Regions from separate parts of the Homo sapiens genome. Here all the other regions are linked to region 1. The links come from fine-mapping of genetic effects on gene expression. Tissue or cell type: whole blood. Region 1 holds a variant in brackets; each other region holds the start of a gene. All regions are shown on one strand. Distances are between the middles of the regions.

Evidence for each region. PIP is the estimated chance that this variant, and not a neighbour inherited with it, causes the effect.
Region 2: it holds the start of RPL38, and the variant in region 1 is fine-mapped to the expression of RPL38 in whole blood (INTERVAL, PIP above 0.99).
Region 3: TTYH2 starts here. The variant in region 1 is fine-mapped to the expression of TTYH2 in whole blood (INTERVAL, PIP above 0.99).

Annotation. Positions count from the first base shown.
Region 1 is chr17:74,434,298-74,439,297 of GRCh38, forward strand. The region is part of intron 1 of GPRC5C (G protein-coupled receptor class C group 5 member C); the gene reads left to right. Among named protein-coding and RNA genes, the nearest start is that of GPRC5C, 4.7 kb to the left of the region's middle. The variant C/T (reference allele first, on the strand shown) is at 2,791.
Region 2 is chr17:74,200,487-74,206,741 of GRCh38, forward strand. RPL38 (ribosomal protein L38) reads left to right here and starts at 3,192. Exons shown (of 5, transcript NM_000999.4): 1 at 3,192-3,259; 2 at 3,432-3,472; 3 at 3,644-3,704. The coding sequence starts at 3,470. RefSeq lists enhancers at 2,428-2,931, 3,940-4,444, 4,445-4,948.
Region 3 is chr17:74,210,738-74,216,992 of GRCh38, forward strand. TTYH2 (tweety family member 2) reads left to right here and starts at 2,834. Exons shown (of 14, transcript NM_032646.6): 1 at 2,834-2,979. The coding sequence starts at 2,851. It overlaps MGC16275 (a long non-coding RNA gene), which reads right to left and starts at 2,584. Exons shown (of 2, transcript NR_026914.1): 1 at 1,787-2,584; 2 at 1-945. RefSeq lists a silencer at 2,711-2,870 and an enhancer at 5,129-5,178.

The DNA.
Region 1 (5,000 bases):
GCAGAAGATGCAACTCCAACATGGAGGGGACAACCCTGGGTGTGGAGAAATGCACCTGGGACCATCCAGAGGTGACTTCCAAATGCCCACTGTGTTCAGGCACAGCACCAGCTGTGGCAGTGGATTCTAGAAGTCTTGTTCACCAGCTTCAAAGACCTTACAGCCCTGGAGGGGAGACACGGACATGATTTGAACGTTCAGGGATCAGAAGGCTCAGTCTTAGTGCAGGGTCTGGGGACCCACAGGAGGCAGAAGTTTCCTCCAGGGTCCTGAGGAAAAGCCTCTGACCAGAGCTGAGTCCATCTTGTCAGTCCCTTAGCCACCATCTTAAAAGGTGGCATTGGGCCGGGAACGGTGGCTCACACTTGTAATCCCAGCACTTTGAGAGGCTGAGGTAGGTGGATCACCTTAGGTCAGGAGTTTGAGACCAGCCTGGCCAACATAGTGAAACCCTGTCTCTACTAAAAATACAAAAATTAGTTGGGCATGGTGGTGGGCACCTGTAATCCCAGCTACTCGGGAGGCTGAGGCAGGAGAATTGCTTGAACCTGGGAGTTGGAGGTTGCAGTGAGCCGAGATCATGCCATTGCACTCCAGTCTGGGCAACAAGAGTGAAGCTTCGTCTCAAGAAAAAAAAAAAGGCTGGGCGCAGTGGCTCACGCCTGTAATCCCAGCACTTTGGGAGGCCGAAGCGGGCGGATCACGAGGTCAGGAGATTGAGACCATCCTAGCTAACACGGTGAAACCCCGTCTCTACTAAAAATAGAAAAAATTAGCCGGGCGTGGTGGCGGGCGCCTGTAGTCCCAGCTACTCGGGAGGCTGAGGCAGGAGAATGGCATGAACCTGGGAGGCGGAGCTTGCAGTGAGCCGAGATCACGCCACTGCGCTCCAGCCTGGGCGACAGAGCGAGACTCCGTCTCAAAAAAAGAAAAAAAAAAGGCATTGGCTGAATGTGCACTCCCGGCATCAGAGGGCTGGAGCTGTGCTCTTCTGAGCTTCTCTTTAACTCTCTGAGGGTCCCTGTCCTAGGCAGTGGATGAGAGCCACGCCCAGAAAGCCCAGGTTTCCCACCTGAGTCCATGTATTTCTGTCTTCCCACCTGCCCTTCCATTTCTGGGGGAACCAGAGAAATAAGATATTTCAGGATGGGACCAGGTTGTTTCCTCTGAGGCTGTTAAGTTACTCAGCAACTTACTAAAAGCAGCAGCCTGGCTGCTGGGCAGCAGCATGGTACCTGGATGCGGTGAGGGGCAGGTACAGGCTCCTCTCTCATTCCTTGAAAGTTTCTATATTGAGGGGGTTGGCAGGAGAAGCAAGACTTGAAGGGTCAGGTGCAGAAGGAAGTTGCTGGTCACCAACCACAAAATCAGGGGGAAACTGGAGGTGGGGGCTTAGGGACAGAGAGCTGTGAAGCTTTCCTGACCCTAGCCCAAGTGCCTGTGGGCTTCTTGGAGCCAGCAGGGTACAGGCAAGTATTTCTAGGGCAAGATGGATCAAGAAGAATGAGTGACATTGGTCCCTGGCTTGGTTTTCTGTAATGACATGCCTGTTAGATTTGAACTTGTAGTATGGGCTTTAGTATCCTTTTCCCCCACCTCCGCCATCCAACCAGTCCTTCGATTGTTTTTTGGAAAGGATCTTTCAGAGCTGGCCATTATGGCTTTACCTTTGGCCTTGACCTTTAAACTGGAATGAATGTGCCCCCCAACAAATCGATTGCCTGTGCATTTTTGCCAGACTCTTTTCCTAAAAGCGCAACCCTGGCTATGCCCCCATGATGCTAAAAGCAGCCTTCAGTGGCTGCCTGTTGCCTTTAGGATAATGCCCCCAGCCCCACCCCTGTAGCATTTCCAATGTGTCAGCCAGCAGCTGCAGCCTCCCTTTGCAGACTCAGCTGATACTTGGCAAACTGAATTCTTTTTTAACTTGCTCTGGACTTGGGCTCAAAGGGCTTTGATTCACACCATCTTTTCTGCCTTGCACGTCCCTCTCCTTGTTCCCTTCACCTGCTCAGTCCTTCCTCACATTCTTCAGGGCTTAGCTTTTGGGTGTCCCTGTCTCTTGGCAGTGTCTGGGACCTGGTATGTTTTTTTATTAGATTCTGAGTAAAACTCTGCGGAACAGTCTTTCTCTACTCTGCCTGTTTCTCTTCTGTGTTCCTGTAGCCCCTGTCTCTCTCCTGCAGGTAAATTCCGTTGTGTGGCCCTTAATCATATTCTTCCTTGTGTAATTTTTGTGAGTACCTACCTTATCTCTCTTGATAGATTTTAAATGCCATCAAGTCAGGGACTACGTTTGTTCATGTTTGTATTTTCCACAGCTCTGGGAACAACAGGGCCTTTCCTTCCCAGGCGCACAGTCAATATTTGCTGATTTGGAGTAATTGCCTGTTCTAAACTGGGCCCTGGCCGAGGGAGGTGGGGTGAAAAGCCCTTGAAAGTGCAGGTGTCCGGAGTCTAAGTGGCAGTTCTGAGGGTTCTCTTCCCTACGTCCAGCTTCAAGCCCAAGTTCTGGCTGGTTTGGCTGTGGAGCCCAAGATGAAGTTGAACATTTAGGATCCCACAGCTTGTTGTTATCCATAAATTATCTCCCAGGAGTGGGTCCATATTACGCCTTCCCTTTTTTGTTGTTGTTGTTGTTGTCGTTGTTGTTTTTGGTTTTTGAGATGGAGTCTCGCTCCGTCACCCAGGCTGGAGTGCAGTGGCGCAATCTCGGCTCACTGCAATCTTCTGCCTCCCAGGTTCAAGGGATTCTTCTGCCTCAGCCTCCTGAGTAGCTGGGATTACAGG[C/T]GCACGCCACCACACCTGGCTAATTTTTGTATTTTTAGTAGAGACGTGGTTTCAGCATGTTGGTCAGGCTGGTCTGGAACTCCTGACCTCGTGATCTGCCCGCCAAAAGTGCTGGGATTACAGCATGAGCCACCGCACCCAGCCTACTCCTTACCTCTTAGCCCTCTCTTACTCCTCTTTCCAGCACTTGTAAATAAAATGCAGTTGGTGCTTTATTGATTTACAAAGTCCCCTACAGAAGCTTATTTAAGTCCTGCATTAGAAGTAAAGAGAAACTAGCCATTAGAACGCCAGTTATTTAGGAAAACAACAGTACATTTACATGAGATAGTTAATTTTAAGAGTTAATCTTAAGCAAGCTTAATTGAAAGATGAGGTAGCTGAGATGGCTAAGACGACCTAAATATTTTCAAGTGGCATGGAGACTATTTGAAGGGACTTTGAAAATGGATCCTCTTTATTGTGTCCATTTCACTTAATTTTATGAGTTGCATTGCCCCTGATTTAGTAAGTGTTCTTTCACATAACAATTATGGACAGAATTTTTTTTTTTTTTTGCTTCTGTGTTGAAAAGAGGGACAATTTCTATCAACTGTGGGATTTAGGGCTTTTGTTTGCCTATTAGAAATTAAGTAGCCAGGAATGGTAGAAAACAGTAAGGAGGTAAACCATGTATAAACAACCTCACAATCCCCCTAAAAAAGGAAAAAGGGTGGCAGCCTCACAGAAGAGAGTTAGATAATGCCATTCCCCTGCCAGCCACTAGTGGTCACTGTCAGACCAGGAAAGCTTGGTTGCTGTTTTCCCAGAGAGTTCCTGATGAAGCTGGGTTACAACTAGTTATTTGAACACGTGGGGTGACTTAAATGTGGACTACCTGCATTCATAGAATTTTGAAACGTATAACCTGTTTCTTTAAGCATTTAAATTTTCTTTTTCTTTTCTTTTCTTTTCTTTCTTTTTTTTGGAAACAGTCTCGCTCTGTTGCCCAGGCTGCAGTGCAGTGGTGCAATCGCAGCTCACTGCAGCCTCGATCCCCTGGGCTCAGATGATCCTCTAACCTCAGCCTCCCAAGTAGCTCAGACTACAGGTGCATGCCACCACACTCTCTGCTAATTCATATATATATATATATATATATATATATATATATATATATATATATTTGTTGTTGTTGTTGTTGTTTGTTTTCATACAGAGTCTCACTCTATTGATCAGGTTGGAGTGCAGTGGCGCAGTCTTGGCTCACTGCAACTTCCACCTCCCGGGCTCAAGCAATTCTCCTGCCTCAGCCTCCTGAATAGCTGGTATTATAGGCGTGCACCTCCACGCCCGGCTAATTTTTGTATTTTTAGTAGAGACGGGGTTTCACCATTTTGGCCGGGCTGGTCTCGAACTCCTGACCTCAAGTGATCCACCAGTCTTGGCCTCCCAAAGTGCTGGGATTACAGGCGTGAGCCACTGCACCCAGCTGCTAATTTTTGTGTTTTTTATAGAGACGGGGTTTCACCATGTTGCCCAGGCTGGTCTCAAACTCCTGGACTCTAGCAATCTGTTCACCTTGACCTCCCAAAGTGCTGGGATTATAGGCATGAACCACCGTGCCCAGCAGCATTTAAATTTTCAGTGTTAGGTTTCCTCCAAGTACATTTAAAACTTTTGATTGGAAAAAAACTCATTGATTTGGTCTTTAATATTTCTTAACCTGTTAAATCCATTACCTCCACTTCACGTGGGAAAATCCAATTGGTATTGGGAGCAGGAGTTTGGTTTTCTTCTCTGGCACAGATCTGTGGCATTTGGTAGAGCGGCAGTCAGTAGATGGAGTGAAAATTACCTTGCTGGTGTTAATAAAAGCTAATTTTCTTGCCTTCTAGCTACAACGTCTTAAAGTCTTCTATTAAAGATTAATTCCTTTGGGTTTTGCATTGCCCTTGCCTGGTTCTTACTTTTAAAATGTTAATGCTCCGAAGGAAAATTTTTGCATTAAGTCATTAACTCCTTAGCTGGGGACTTCGTTTATTTCACCCTTGACTTCCGCTTCCGAGCTAGGCAAAAAATGGAGGATTCTGAACTGGAGACTTGGCACTAAAAGTGGGAAAATGACTGTCTCTTCATTTTTCCTGGCTGTTGGTTATGCCTGCTGCAGCTGCTTGTTAAGTCTATTGAATGAATGAATGAACACATAGCTGACTGGCTGTGGATTTAGG
Region 2 (6,255 bases), 230 kb before region 1:
AATGGATTGAATGGGGGAAAATCCTGGAGGTTGGGAAGTCTTCCCAGCCATGTGCCGTGCCAGCCCTCTGCCCACCTGCGAGCTGGGGCATTGGGGTTTTTTTGACCCATCCTGGTCCTCTTTCCAATGTGTCCCTGAAAACTGAAGAGAGAACTCTAAACCATTTGGCCTTCAGAGGTGGCCAGAGTGGGGCTGCTGGAGGGAGGAGGGGAGGCCCGGTGACTTCTGAGGCCCTCTCTGCCCAGAGCCAGCAGAGTGAGGGAAGGGAAGGAAGGAAAAGGGTTGGATTGTGTCCTGTAGCTCCGGACATGCCCTCTGAGCCTCTCCTGCCTCCAGCCATGCTGCAACACACTGCTTGAGACCCTCCCTACCGCCTCTTGACAACAGCAATAGCCCTCACCATCCCACAGCTGCCAGCACTGGACATTCCAGCCTACCAATGGCCAGAGCGACCATAACAGGCAGCCTGGGCCATCCTGCCCTCGAGTCCGGGGCTTTCCTCTCCTGCAGGATCCACCCTAGGCCCTGGAGAGTTTTGTTTCATGTGTATATGGGAGTCATCAGGGAGGCTCATGTCCAGGTCAGCATCTGCTCAAGGTCTCAGGCTGTGGCACTCAGGGCCTAGGCTCTGCCCCCCTTGGTCTCTGACAGTCCCCGGCCACTCCAGGACATTTGGGGCTCATCTTCCCATGGAGCAGGGAAGCGTGCCCTCTGGGCACCTTGCCTCACTTTTAGTAGCTGCAGCTTATTTTGCTATTTGTCCCCCTTGGGGAGCTGGAGGTCTTTGGTACTTGAACAAATTTGCCATTGTGTTTTGCTACTACACGTCTATGGTCCCTTAAATTATACAACTCAAGAGGGTGAACATCTGTCTCCCTGGGATCGCTGCCAAAAGGGAGGTGCAGCTCCTCCTTCTATCCCCGTCCTTGTCCTGTCGGGCCGGCAGTGAGGCAAGAAGCACCAGTCATTCATTCAACAAATAGTTTTTGGACCTACTACATGCCAGGCACTGCTTCAGGCACGTCAGTGTCTCCTTCTGGCTCTCCCTGAATTCCTCCCTCCATCCACCACCCCTTTATATGGTGAGTGATCTCAGATGCCGCATCCAGCCGGATCATCCTGCAATGTTAGCATTGAGCACTTACTGTACAGATGGGTACTGCACTTCGAGAGTTATCGACAGAATGCTGAGCCCTGTCCTTGCCTTCAAGGAAAAGTGGTAAGGTGGGGCGTAGTGGCTCACACCTGTTATCCTAGCACTTTGGGGGGCCGAGGCAGGAGGATCCCTTGAGCCCAGGAGTTCGAAACCAGCTTGGGCAACCTAGGGAGACCATGTCTCTAAAAAAGTTTTAAAAAATTAAAAATAAAAAGAGTGGTGCGCATGTATGAAAAGTTAAACACCTCCACGCAGCCTACGGAGAAGTGATTGCAAGGAACCACTGTATGAGCGGCAAGCAACATAAGTCAAGGGTGAAGGGTCCTGCCTGAAAAAGGGGAGGCGGGAGCTGAGCTCGGAAGGACCAGTGGCACTTGGCATCAGAGTGGACAGCAGAGCAAATACCTGGAGGGCAGAAAGTGCCCAAAAGTGCCCCTCGGCTTGGCTGAAAGGGTGGTTGCTTGTGGAGGAGCAGTGGGGTAGAAAAGACCAGAAAGGCATCGCCTGAGATGGGAAGGGCTGGCAAAGCCGGGCTCTGAGGTATGGGAAAATCCTTCTCAGGTCAGAGCTGAAGCACTCGTGCTTCTCAGATCGGATCCGACCTTCAGACATCTAAAATTAGGCTTCTGCCAATTAACTTTTCCCACTGCTAGAACCCCGACACATTTACAGTTGCAGAGACATCGTTCAGCTTCTTTAAAAGACTCTTCAGTGTTATTACAATATTTTTGTGATCTCTCTGCAGCAAGGTCTATTGGTTCCTGTATCTCCAGCACCCCCAGGAAGGTGCTCAGCCTGAGCTTGTTAATGGAAGGGCAGGAGGGAGGAAGAAAGGAAGGTTAAGTTAAATAAGTTCTAAGTAAAGCTCATGGCAAAGTGTTCTTTCCCTTCAGGAGGGCCGCTCTGTAATAATAAGCACGAAGCAATTACATTCTGCCGTGTGGTTATTAAATTTTGGGGAAACAAATATAATAAAATGTAGACATTTGTAGGGAGGTTGGAGATAAAATAAAAATGGAGGATAAAAATAAAATCGATAACCGCAGGTTGCTCAGAGTCTAACCTAAAGGATGTTAGGGGGAGAAAGGAACGCTGCCCTCCCCAGGCTTCCCAAGCCTCCCCAGGAAGTGGCCGGAGCCTGGGCTGGGGAATCTGCCCAGCAGGGGTTCAACTCCTGAGTCCACCTCTCCCCTCTGGGGCCGCGGTGAGACCCCGCAAGAGCAGGAGCACTCCCACTCACCATCAGCCCTAGGGGTGAGACACTTAGCCAGGGGCAGCGCTGCGACAGCTTTTGGAAGTATTATTATTATTATCATTATTGCTAGAGATGGGGGGGGGGAGGTCTTACTAGGTTGCCCAGGCTGCTCTCGAACTCCTGGCCTCAAGCGATCCGCCTGCCTCGGCCTCCCCCAGTGCTGGGGTTATAAGCGTGAGCCACCGCGCCCGGCCTTAACTTGCTTTCATTGTACACCAATTCCTAAGGGAATTGGAAGCAGCAAGCAGGAACGCTCCCTCTTATGGAAAGAAGAGCCCAGGGCCCTGGTCATGACAGGTTCAGGTGCCAAAAAGGAGACGGGAAGAAAACGTGAGGCGCCAGAACAACAGGTTCTACAAGGTGCACACGAGGGTCCCTGCCATTGAATGAAGAATTTTCTGTGTGGATGCCCCTGCGCAGGTCCAATGAAAGCCGTGGAGAATAAGCGTTAGCTCTTCAAACTGAATCTGAGCTAAAACCTAGCAAAGCCAGGCTGGGGTCTGAGGGGTTGCGGGGGAAGACAGGAAGGGGTGGACGGGGAAGAGGCGGGGGTCCTAGGAGGAAGGGATGGGGAGGAGCGAGAGGAGGGAGGCGGAGGGAGGGCGGCAGCCAGGATGGTCCATTCCATTCTTGGAGCTGCACTGTTGACTTCGACCACAAGGGGGCAGGGCTGCTGAAATTGGAAGTGCGAACGCCTACATGAGTCTTGATCCTCGGCAGGCACCGTACCCAGTTTCCTCCGTTGGGAGGGTTTAACTGCCCGGAAACGGAAGTCTCGTTCTTTTTCGTCCTTTTCCCCGGTTGCTGCTTGCTGTGAGTGTCTCTAGGGTGATACGTGGGTGAGAAAGGTAATCTGGGGCAATCCACTGCCAGGTGAAATCTGGGGACCCCAGGTCCGCGTGGAGGGTGTCGGGGAGGAGAAGGGGAGTGCGATGGGGCCGATATTTCGGGGGAGAGCGGGAAAACGGGGTTCGCTGCCAGCCCCCGCGCCGTGTTAACGCCGAGGACTGTTTCCCGCAGGTCCTGGTCCGCGCCAGAGCCCAGCGCGCCTCGTCGCCATGGTGAGTACAGTCCCTGCCTGGCGCCTTCCCGGGGTGGGCTCGTGGGGCCCCGGGGCGAGGGCGAGAGAGCCTCCCAAGGATCTCCTGAGGCCGGGAGAAGCTGGTGGACTGGGCCATCGCCGGGAGACGTGTCTCTTTCCTCTCTGTTCACCCGCTTCCTTTGTGTTGCAGCCTCGGAAAATTGAGGAAATCAAGGACTTCCTGCTCACAGCCCGACGAAAGGATGCCAAATGTAAGTGGTTGCTCCGAAGGTTCAAGAAGAGCGGTGCCTAGCCTGGCACCGCTCCGGGAGCGTCTTCCCCGGAATGTCAGGCAGGAGACGGTTAGGCCGTCTGGGTGTGTGCCTGGCCCTCTGGGAGCAGTGGTTTCATCCTGTTTCCCATGAGAAAGACCTGTGGGGGGCACGTTGAGGCCCTGGAATTTCTAGGACCATCTTTAGCTAATCGCGATCATCTCAGAGGCCGCCCTGAGTTCAGTTTTCTTTCGTATAATATAGTAAATTGTCGGAACGGAATCTCCACTCCGCGAAAGCCTCAAAACACACGTCCCATAAACACTGTTTAGGTTCTCTGCAGTTGTGCAAAATCTTAACACAAAATCCATTTTGTAATAAAGTGCTGGATATTTGCATGTAATGTATCGAGCACGGCACACTGTGTAGTATGGTCGTTTACCTCGTGATCCTGTGGTCGCTGGCCAGTGTCAGAAGGTATCATACCTATCTAATCCAGAAAAATATTTAAAAAAATTTTTTTTTTTCTTTGAGACAGTCTGGCTCTGTCGCCCAGGCTGGATTGCAGTGGTGCGATCTTGGCTCACTGCAATTACCGCCTCCCAGGTTCAAGCGATCCCCCTGCCTCAAAGTAGCTGGGCGCGCCACCATGCCTAGCTGATTTTTGTGTTTTTGGTAGAGACAGAGTTTCACCATGTTGGCCAGGCTGGTCTCGAACTCCTAACCTCAGATGATCCACCTGCCTCCGCCTCCCAGAGTGCTGGGATTACAGGTGTGAGCCACTGTGCCCCGCCAAGATCAAAATTTGAAGCAGGGCTTCTACTGAATGTATATCGCATTACCACCATTGTAAAGTCACAGAGTTTAAGTTGGACTGTCATAGGTCTGTTTCCCAGCTTGTACATACAGGGGAAAGAAGGTGATTAATGAAAAACCTTAAACAGCAGGTTTTCGATGGATAGGTGCCAATCTCTGCTGCCCACTTACTTAAATTTTTACACCAAGTGTGAGAGGTAGTTGTGTTACTCCTTTGTGATACTTGAAGGAGATTGGGGGGGCTTGTGTTTGATACAAGCTAGGTCTTGAGTTATGTTGTTACTTTAACCCAGTCATCTTTTTTCAGCTGACTGAGAATCAGGTCACATGTGGAAGTGAGGTTGCATGGGACAGGCCTGTTAAGGTGGGCTAAGACACCAGCCGTCTCTAATGCTCTGCCAGCCGTGGTGCCAGACGGTGGTTGGTGTACAGGGAGAGTCTTTCAATGAGTTGGGGGTAGGCAGAGATGGGGGTCATATTTGTGTCCCCATTACCCAAAACAGGCTGTCACCTTTGAGGTAGTGACCACCTGTGGGGACAAATAGCATCTGGTGGGAATGATGACTGTTGGCTAGTGTTTTGTGTAAAGAGATGAGGTTATCAGGTCAGTTTTATTTCAGACCATATGGGGTCACTGCCTAGTTTGAAGCCCAACTCTACCTGCAGGTAACTTACCCTTCTCAGCAAGTTAAACACGACACCACCGTTTGATTGTGTTTTAAAAGGGTGGTGGTCCGGGCGTGGTGGCTCATGCCTATAATTCCAGCACTTTGGGAGGCCAAAGCGGACAGATCGCTTGAACCAGGAGTTCAAGACCAACCTGGGCGACATGGCAAAACCCCATTTCTACTAAAAATAAAAAAATTAGCCAGGCATGGTGGCACACGCCTGCAGTCCCAGCTACTCAGGAGGCTGAGGCAGGAGAATCAGTTGAACCAAGGAGACGGAGGTTGCAGTGAGCTGAGATTGTCTCACTGCACTCCAGCCTGGGTGACAGAGCGAGACTGTCTCACAAAAAAAATTGGGAACCTTCATTTTAGATGATGTGGCTTTAAAGGTAGTGGTCACAGTCCCCTGGGGACAGTAAAGTGTCAGTAGCTGTTTGTTGAAAAAACTTTTTAAAATGGTTGTATTAATTTTTAACGTGTAATAGGCATAGCGTAAAAGTTACCATTTACACTGGGTATGGTGGTTCCCATCTGTAATCCCAGCACTTTGGGAGACTGAGGCAGATGGATGAGACTAGCCTGGGCATCATAGTGAGACCCTGTCTCTATAAAAGAAAAAAGTTAGCCGGGCGTGTGCTGGTGGTCCTAGCTACTCAGGAGGCTGAGGTAGGATTGCTTGAATCCAGGAAATTGAGGCTATAGTGAGCCACGATTATGCTACTGCACTCCGGGCTGGGCAACAAAGCATAATTGTACAGTTCAGTGGCATTCAGTAAATACACATTGTTGAGCAGCTGCCACCATCACCGCCCATCTCCAGAACTTTATCTTCCCAAACTGAAACTCCCTCTGTTAAACACCAGCTCCCCATTCTTCCCCAGCCCCTGGCAACCACCTTCCAATTTGTCCCTGAATGTGACTGCTCTGGATACCCCATACAAGTGGGTCTGCTATTGCATATTTGACCTTTTGTGACTGGCTTCTCTTCACATGTCCTCAAGCATGTGTCAGAATTGCCTTCTGTTTTTTCTTTCTTTTTTTTTTTTTTTTTTTTTTGACATGGAATG
Region 3 (6,255 bases), 220 kb before region 1:
ACGTGCTCAGGTTGTAAGGTTGAAGTGCCAGTCTTTGAATATTCTGTAAGGATTGTGAGGGTGTGAGGTGGTTTTGAGTCTGGTCACGGGTCTTGTTTCCTCCGGGAGAGGGTGGGTACACCAGCCCTCAGGCCCAGGTGCGGCACTGTGGGCGGCTTTCAGCCTTTCCCGTTCTGTAAGCATTGCAGATTCCCAAGGAAAAGCGAGCCTTTACCATGTGGGTTTTCTTTGTTCCCAGCACATCGTCCAGAGTTTCATCCCAGCTCCTAGGAGACAGGCCTTGCAGGGGTGTGTCCAGCCTTGTCTAGAGAAGGCCGCCTTTCATGCAGTGCTTCCCAGCCCTGGCTTGTGACTCAGTCATCTGGGGCACTTAGGCAGTTCACTGTGGTGGCCAGGGCTGACTGGAGATTGCGATTGCGGTGGTCTGGGGCATAGGTGTGTTTCCAAGCTCTCAGGTGGGCCTCTGCTTTGCTGGGGCTTCAGCAAGCCCTTAAGTGCTGCATACCAGGTGAATGGGGAGGGGGGAGGTGATGGGCTACAGCTGCTGGTGTGCCGACTGTCCTCCAACTCCCTGCTGAGTCTGTGGGAGGTCTGTCTGTTGTGCTTCAGCTTTTTGACACCTCTCTGGGTCAGCAGGCCTCCGGGGAAGCAGCTAGAATGGTCGCTGTCTGGCTGGGTGCAGGTGGGCTGACAGGTTTGGATATTCCAGGCCGCATTCCGGTGGCTGTGGAGATAGCCCTGAGGGACAGCCTTTGCAGTTTGTTTCTTCCAGTGCCGTGTGCAGGCCTCCAGCCTTCTGGGGCTCCCTTGCCCCGGGTTCAAAGTCAGTCCTCGGTGACCACCCACTGCCTAGGAGGCAGGCCCTTCCCACCTGGGGGGCCTCTGAGGGCAGGGGCTGTAAAAGCAGCTACCAGAAGAGTCCACTTTCCCCAGCAACTGCAGGGACTGAGTCAGAGACCAAGACCTTTTAAAAGGAGGTTTTCACCCAAAGAAGTTCCCTCCCCTGCCGCAGTCTCCAAGCTGATCGCCTGGCTCCTGCAGTTCTCCGGCTCCCTGTCCTGTTCTGGAACTTGCTTGCTTCCCCTTCCACTGGCCTTAGTCCCTGATCTCACAGGGTCCTGTTCCTTCTGCACAGAGGCCTCCCCCAGCACCCCCCTCTTTGACTCCCGATCATCCTTCAGCTCATGTCACTGTCCTTTGGGAAACAACCCTGACGCCCACCTTCCATCCCCTCTCCCTACAGCAGGGACTCTGACATTTCACAAGGCCTGCAATCGCTGTTTGCAGGATACAAGTCCACCTCACCTCGCCTACTAGGCTGTAGACGCCATGCAGGCGGGAACGTGTGTTTTATCCATTACTGTATCCTCTAGAACAGAGAACGTGCTCAAGAAAATTTGTTGAAAGACACCCCAATGAGAGAAGAATGGCTGTTTCCAGCCTTCCGGGCCCCTCAGCTTTGGGCTCCTGCAGGGCCCCAGAACCGTGGGATCACGGCCACGAGGAGAGGCCCCGAGGCCAGGACTTCCTCTAATGGACACAGGGCCTTTGAGCACCGGGTGACTGGGGCCCCACTCCCCAGCAGCCATATGTGTTTGCGAGCGTTTTCAGTCGGTCCGCATCCACCCGGTCCCTTCAGCCAGAACCCTAGGAGCCCCGCCCCGTCCTCCCGGGGCTCCTTTCTCACCCGCGTCCCTGCCGCGGTGGATACGCACCCCTCAGGCTGGCTGCCCAGCGCGGTTTCCACGCCCAATCTGCCGCGACCCCATCACTCCACCGCACCTACCCCTGACTCCTGCTTGTCCTGCAGCCTGGGCTCCTCCCTCCGCTGGCCAAGTCACGCCAAGCAGTTTGCGGTTACAGGACGGGTGGGGGCCTCTGCATATGTGCAGAGTACGGAGGGCCCAGGGACGCGAGGCTCCCCGATGGGCAACCTCCCCTGCCTTTGCTTTTCCCCAGAGCCCCCTCCTGGCCTGCGTTCGGCATCTTCTCGGGTCGTCATCGCCCTCTGCGGTGCCTGCGCTCGGGGTGAGGGTTTTTGTCGGCTTTTGTTACATCACCGATGTAACAGTGCCTGGACGTAGTAGGTGCTCAATAAATATGTTGTTGAATGCGCTTCAGTCTCCCCGAATGCTTGTCCCTTCCGGGCGCTCTCATCGCTCTCCTACCTTCCCCGCTACACAGCTCGAAGGTCCCCTCCTCCGGGAAGCTCACCCTGTCCCACTTGCCAGGAAGAATCAAGCAAATTTTCTGAGTGAGACACCTTGTCCTCACTCAGGCGTCCTGCAGGCGGCTTCAGCGAGTTGTTGGGGCAGATGCGCCGGGAGCTCCCGAGGGCAGGGACGGCGTCTTATTTCTCTTTTTAAGTCCACAGGGCTTGCACAATAGATGCCCAAAAAATGAGAGTGAATTTAGAATGAGTGACCGAGTGGCTGAAGATTGCCTCCTTCCTTTCCCAGTCTGTCGGTTACTTACCCTGTGACAAGCCCTTGGGACGGGCAGTCGCCCCTCTCTGGCCTATGACTGCTGGCTGCCCCCACTGACACCTTATACCCTTGATCTGATCATAAATAAGAAGCAGCCCGGGGACCTCGAGACTGAAACTGATTTAGAGACTTCTGGGAGCTTTTTTCACTTCCCTCCTCCCATCCGGCCAGGACAGATCCCCGCCCAGAAAGGGGCTGTTGACTGCAGCGGGCTGCGCGCCCAGAACTGGGACTGGGATCGCGGCGGGGCGGGGCGGGCGCGGGCCCAGGGAGAGGCGGGGCCGGGGGCGGGGCGGGCACGGGGCCCCGGCCGGGAGGTGAGCGCAGCTGTCGTTCAGCTTGTGGGTAGCACTCGGGCCGAGCCATGCAGGCGGCGCGCGTGGACTACATCGCTCCCTGGTGGGTCGTGTGGCTGCACAGCGTCCCGCACGTCGGCCTGCGCCTGCAGCCCGTGAACAGCACCTTCAGCCCCGGCGACGAGAGTTACCAGGAGGTAAGTTTACGCCGCCCCAGACCGCAGCCACGCGCGCCCCAAGTCCCCGCACTACCCCCTCTCCCCTCGAGAGCCTGCACTTTCCCACGTGCCTCTCAGACCCCTTCTCTCCCCGCGCAGCCCTTTCCCGTCTCCCCTCTCCCCTTTTCCCCCACCCTCCCAGGCCCGTGGCCCGCGTCCCCTCCTGTCTGGGAACCTGGGGGCCGGGAAAACTGAAGAGATCAGAGTGAAGCGAGCGTGGGGAAGGGGAGGAAGGGCGCAAGACCGCCTGCGGGGTGAGGGGCTGAACGCTGAGCGGGCAGGGCGGCGCGGGGGAGGGGTAAGGACAGGGGCATTCGTCTCGGGGTAATCCTGGCGCGCGAGGTGCGGGGATGCTGAGGGGTGCCCCGAAGTTTTCGACCGTCTGAGATTCCAAGATGGGGCGCTCTCTTTCCGGGGCTGAGTGGCCTAGGAAAGTTTGGCAGAAACTGAGTAGAGTCTCCCGAGTCGGTCTTCGCAGCACCCCTCCTCCCCAGCCCCGGCCTGCAGGGTGGGAGTCTCAGCTGGAAGGCTGCAGGGCTTGGGGAAGCGGTGTGGGTCACTTCCCCTCTAGCGCAGAGAACCCACAGCTGCTTGCGCTTGTTCCAGGGAAGGAAGGTGGCCTCCGTCAGCCCATCTCACACTGTTGTCCTGAGGACCCCCTTGCATTGACAGTCAGCTTCTCTGTGTCCCCTGGTCCTAGACTGGCCCATTCCTGTTCCCCCACGCCCCTCTCTCTACCTCACACCTTTAAGCCCTGAATTTCTGGCCTAGGGCAGTCACTCCCGGCTTCCCCGCCCTTTCCCTACTCTGCTGACCCTTGGCAGGATTCTGCACCCCACAAACAGGGCCAGGGCTCCCCAGACCTCCCTGCCCAGACAAACAAAGCTGCAGAATCTCCCAGCCCGTCTCAGGTCTGGTCACGCCTGCTCTGGCCCCGGGAGCCCACCTGTATCAGTTCCTTGTGTTGGGTCAAAGATTCTGGGGCCAGTGGACCAGGATGAGGTCCATTTATTCAGAGCCAGGCGCCCATCTCAGGACTTTGGCCCCCGGCGGCCTCTCCCTGTGTCAAGTTCTCCAGATATGGGACAGATCAGGGCAAAGCAGGGCCTCTTGGAGGGAATCCTGATCCAGTGTGAGGTGCCCAAGCGCCAGTGACAGGGAGTCTAATAATAACCCCTGACGACCCGGCTGCCATCAGGCCCAGGCAGATGGTGCCTGCCCTACCAGAGGGAGGGGAGCATCAGGACCCCTTCCTGGGGTTCAGTGGGCACTCAGGAGCAAGACGGCAGTCGGTGGACCCACCCCCCTCCCCCAGAGCCCAGCCTGTGGGAGTCTGTGTTCCCTGAGAATGTGGCTGCCTGGGGATAGCTCCAGGGAATCTTCCTCTCCCAGAGAATGCATGAAAAGAGGCGGATATGATTTCAGAAACAGCCGTGTGTGTGTGTGTGTGTGTGTGTGTGTGTGTGTCCCCATCCCAAACCCTGTGCCCCACATCCCACACCCGGGGTCTCCAGCCATAGTTTTCTCCTCTCCACTGGAGGAAATCTAAACTTTTCATTGGGTCAAGAAGACCCCTAGGTGGGGGTAGGGATGGTAAGGGGACTCCCTCACCCTGATGGCCCCAGAGACAGTTCCTATCAGCCCAACAGCTGTGGCTGGTGGATCCTGGGCCTGCCCACAGCCCCCTCAGTCCCATGGGCAGGTGGCAGTTGAGCCAGATGAACCTACCTCCAGCCTCTGCCCCTCCTCCCAGGATTCTGGCCCCGGCTCACTTTGTGCTGGGCATCAAATGGTTCCAGAGGGTGTCCCTTCCCATCGGCCACTGCTCCTGGGCAGCTGACACCAGCCCTGCCCACTGGCTCCTGGTCCCGCTCACCCCCTCACCACCACTCAGATCGCTGAGTAGGAGATGAGCGTGGTGGGCCAGGACCGGAAGTCTGGCTCTGGGTGTTATTTAAGGTGGCTCCTGTTTTTGGTAAGTTCCCCTGTTGTGACCACAGGTCTCTCCTGGATGTCTTCTTTCCTCCTGAGCACCAGTCACTAACAGAGTCAGGTGGACCGTCGGTCATCCCAGTCTTCAGCAAGCTTGACTGGAGCAAGTGCTATGCCAGGCGTGGGGTGACCGTGGTAACCAAGGCAGCAGGTCTTCAGGAGAAATTGCTGGGGATTTTCTGCGGCTGGGCTCTGGGCGCAGTGCTATGGCAGACACCAAGCAGTTTGAGGTGGGGCTCTGCCCTCCAGTTGGCTGGGGTGGATTCCCAGTTCTTTCCATGTGTGACCACGGGTAGGTGTCTTAACCTCTCTGAGCCTTGTTCCCTTCATCTGCAAGAATTAGATGAGATATTCCACATATCATGCCTAGTACAGAGAGTCCCATAGCACATAACAGGAGCCAGTGACACAGATCATTCAATGGAGTGGCTGAGAGGTTCAGGAGTGTGTCTCAGGACAGTACCCTGCTGGGGAATGGAGAGGAAGGAGATCTCTTCCACAGACTCTGATTGGGGGAGACTGAACAAAACGCCTGCAGAAAGGGCTTCAGCTCATGCCCCACATGTTCAAATGCACAGTGCTGGCTGTGTGGGGTGTGGGGGGTGGGTGCGTGTGCATCAGAGACTAAGCAAGGATGGAAACAGGCAGGTGCTGGCCTTAGGATGTGGGTGGTGCGGGGGATCTCAAAGGCAAGGGGGTTCTTGGAAGTGCAGAGATGGTGAAGAGCAGGTCACCTGGTGAGCTGGGATTTCCTGAGCAAGTTCAGTGTTCCAGAACCTTCCTGAGGAAGTAGGGGCTCTCACTCACTTTCTGGGGTGTTTGGGAGCCGTGAAAGCCCCCAGTCCTCCTGATAGTTGATCCTCACCCCTCTCCCCCCAGTGAACTTGAGCCCAAGTCCTCGCAAAGGCCACTTGGCCTGTGTCACCAGCCTTGTGGGGAGGCTACCCTCCAGTGAGTAGAGGCATGAGAGGTGAGCACCAAGGCAGGGCTGTGGACGAGGGCACCTTGGCCCTGGCGGGCACCCAGCTCTGGGCTGCCAGATGTGGCTGTATGTCTGGAAGGAAATCAGCCTAGACCTGCAGCCCAAGTCTTCTCACCTTTGACAGATGAGGGGGATTGGATTTGGAGACGATTCCTACTCTAAAGAGATGATAAAAGAACTAATGAGTTCATGGATTATGAAGCCTGTGGCCAGTGCCTGGCACACTGGAAACTGCTACAATCACTGCTTAGGAAGGAGAAGACTGCAGCCAGCCGGTGTCC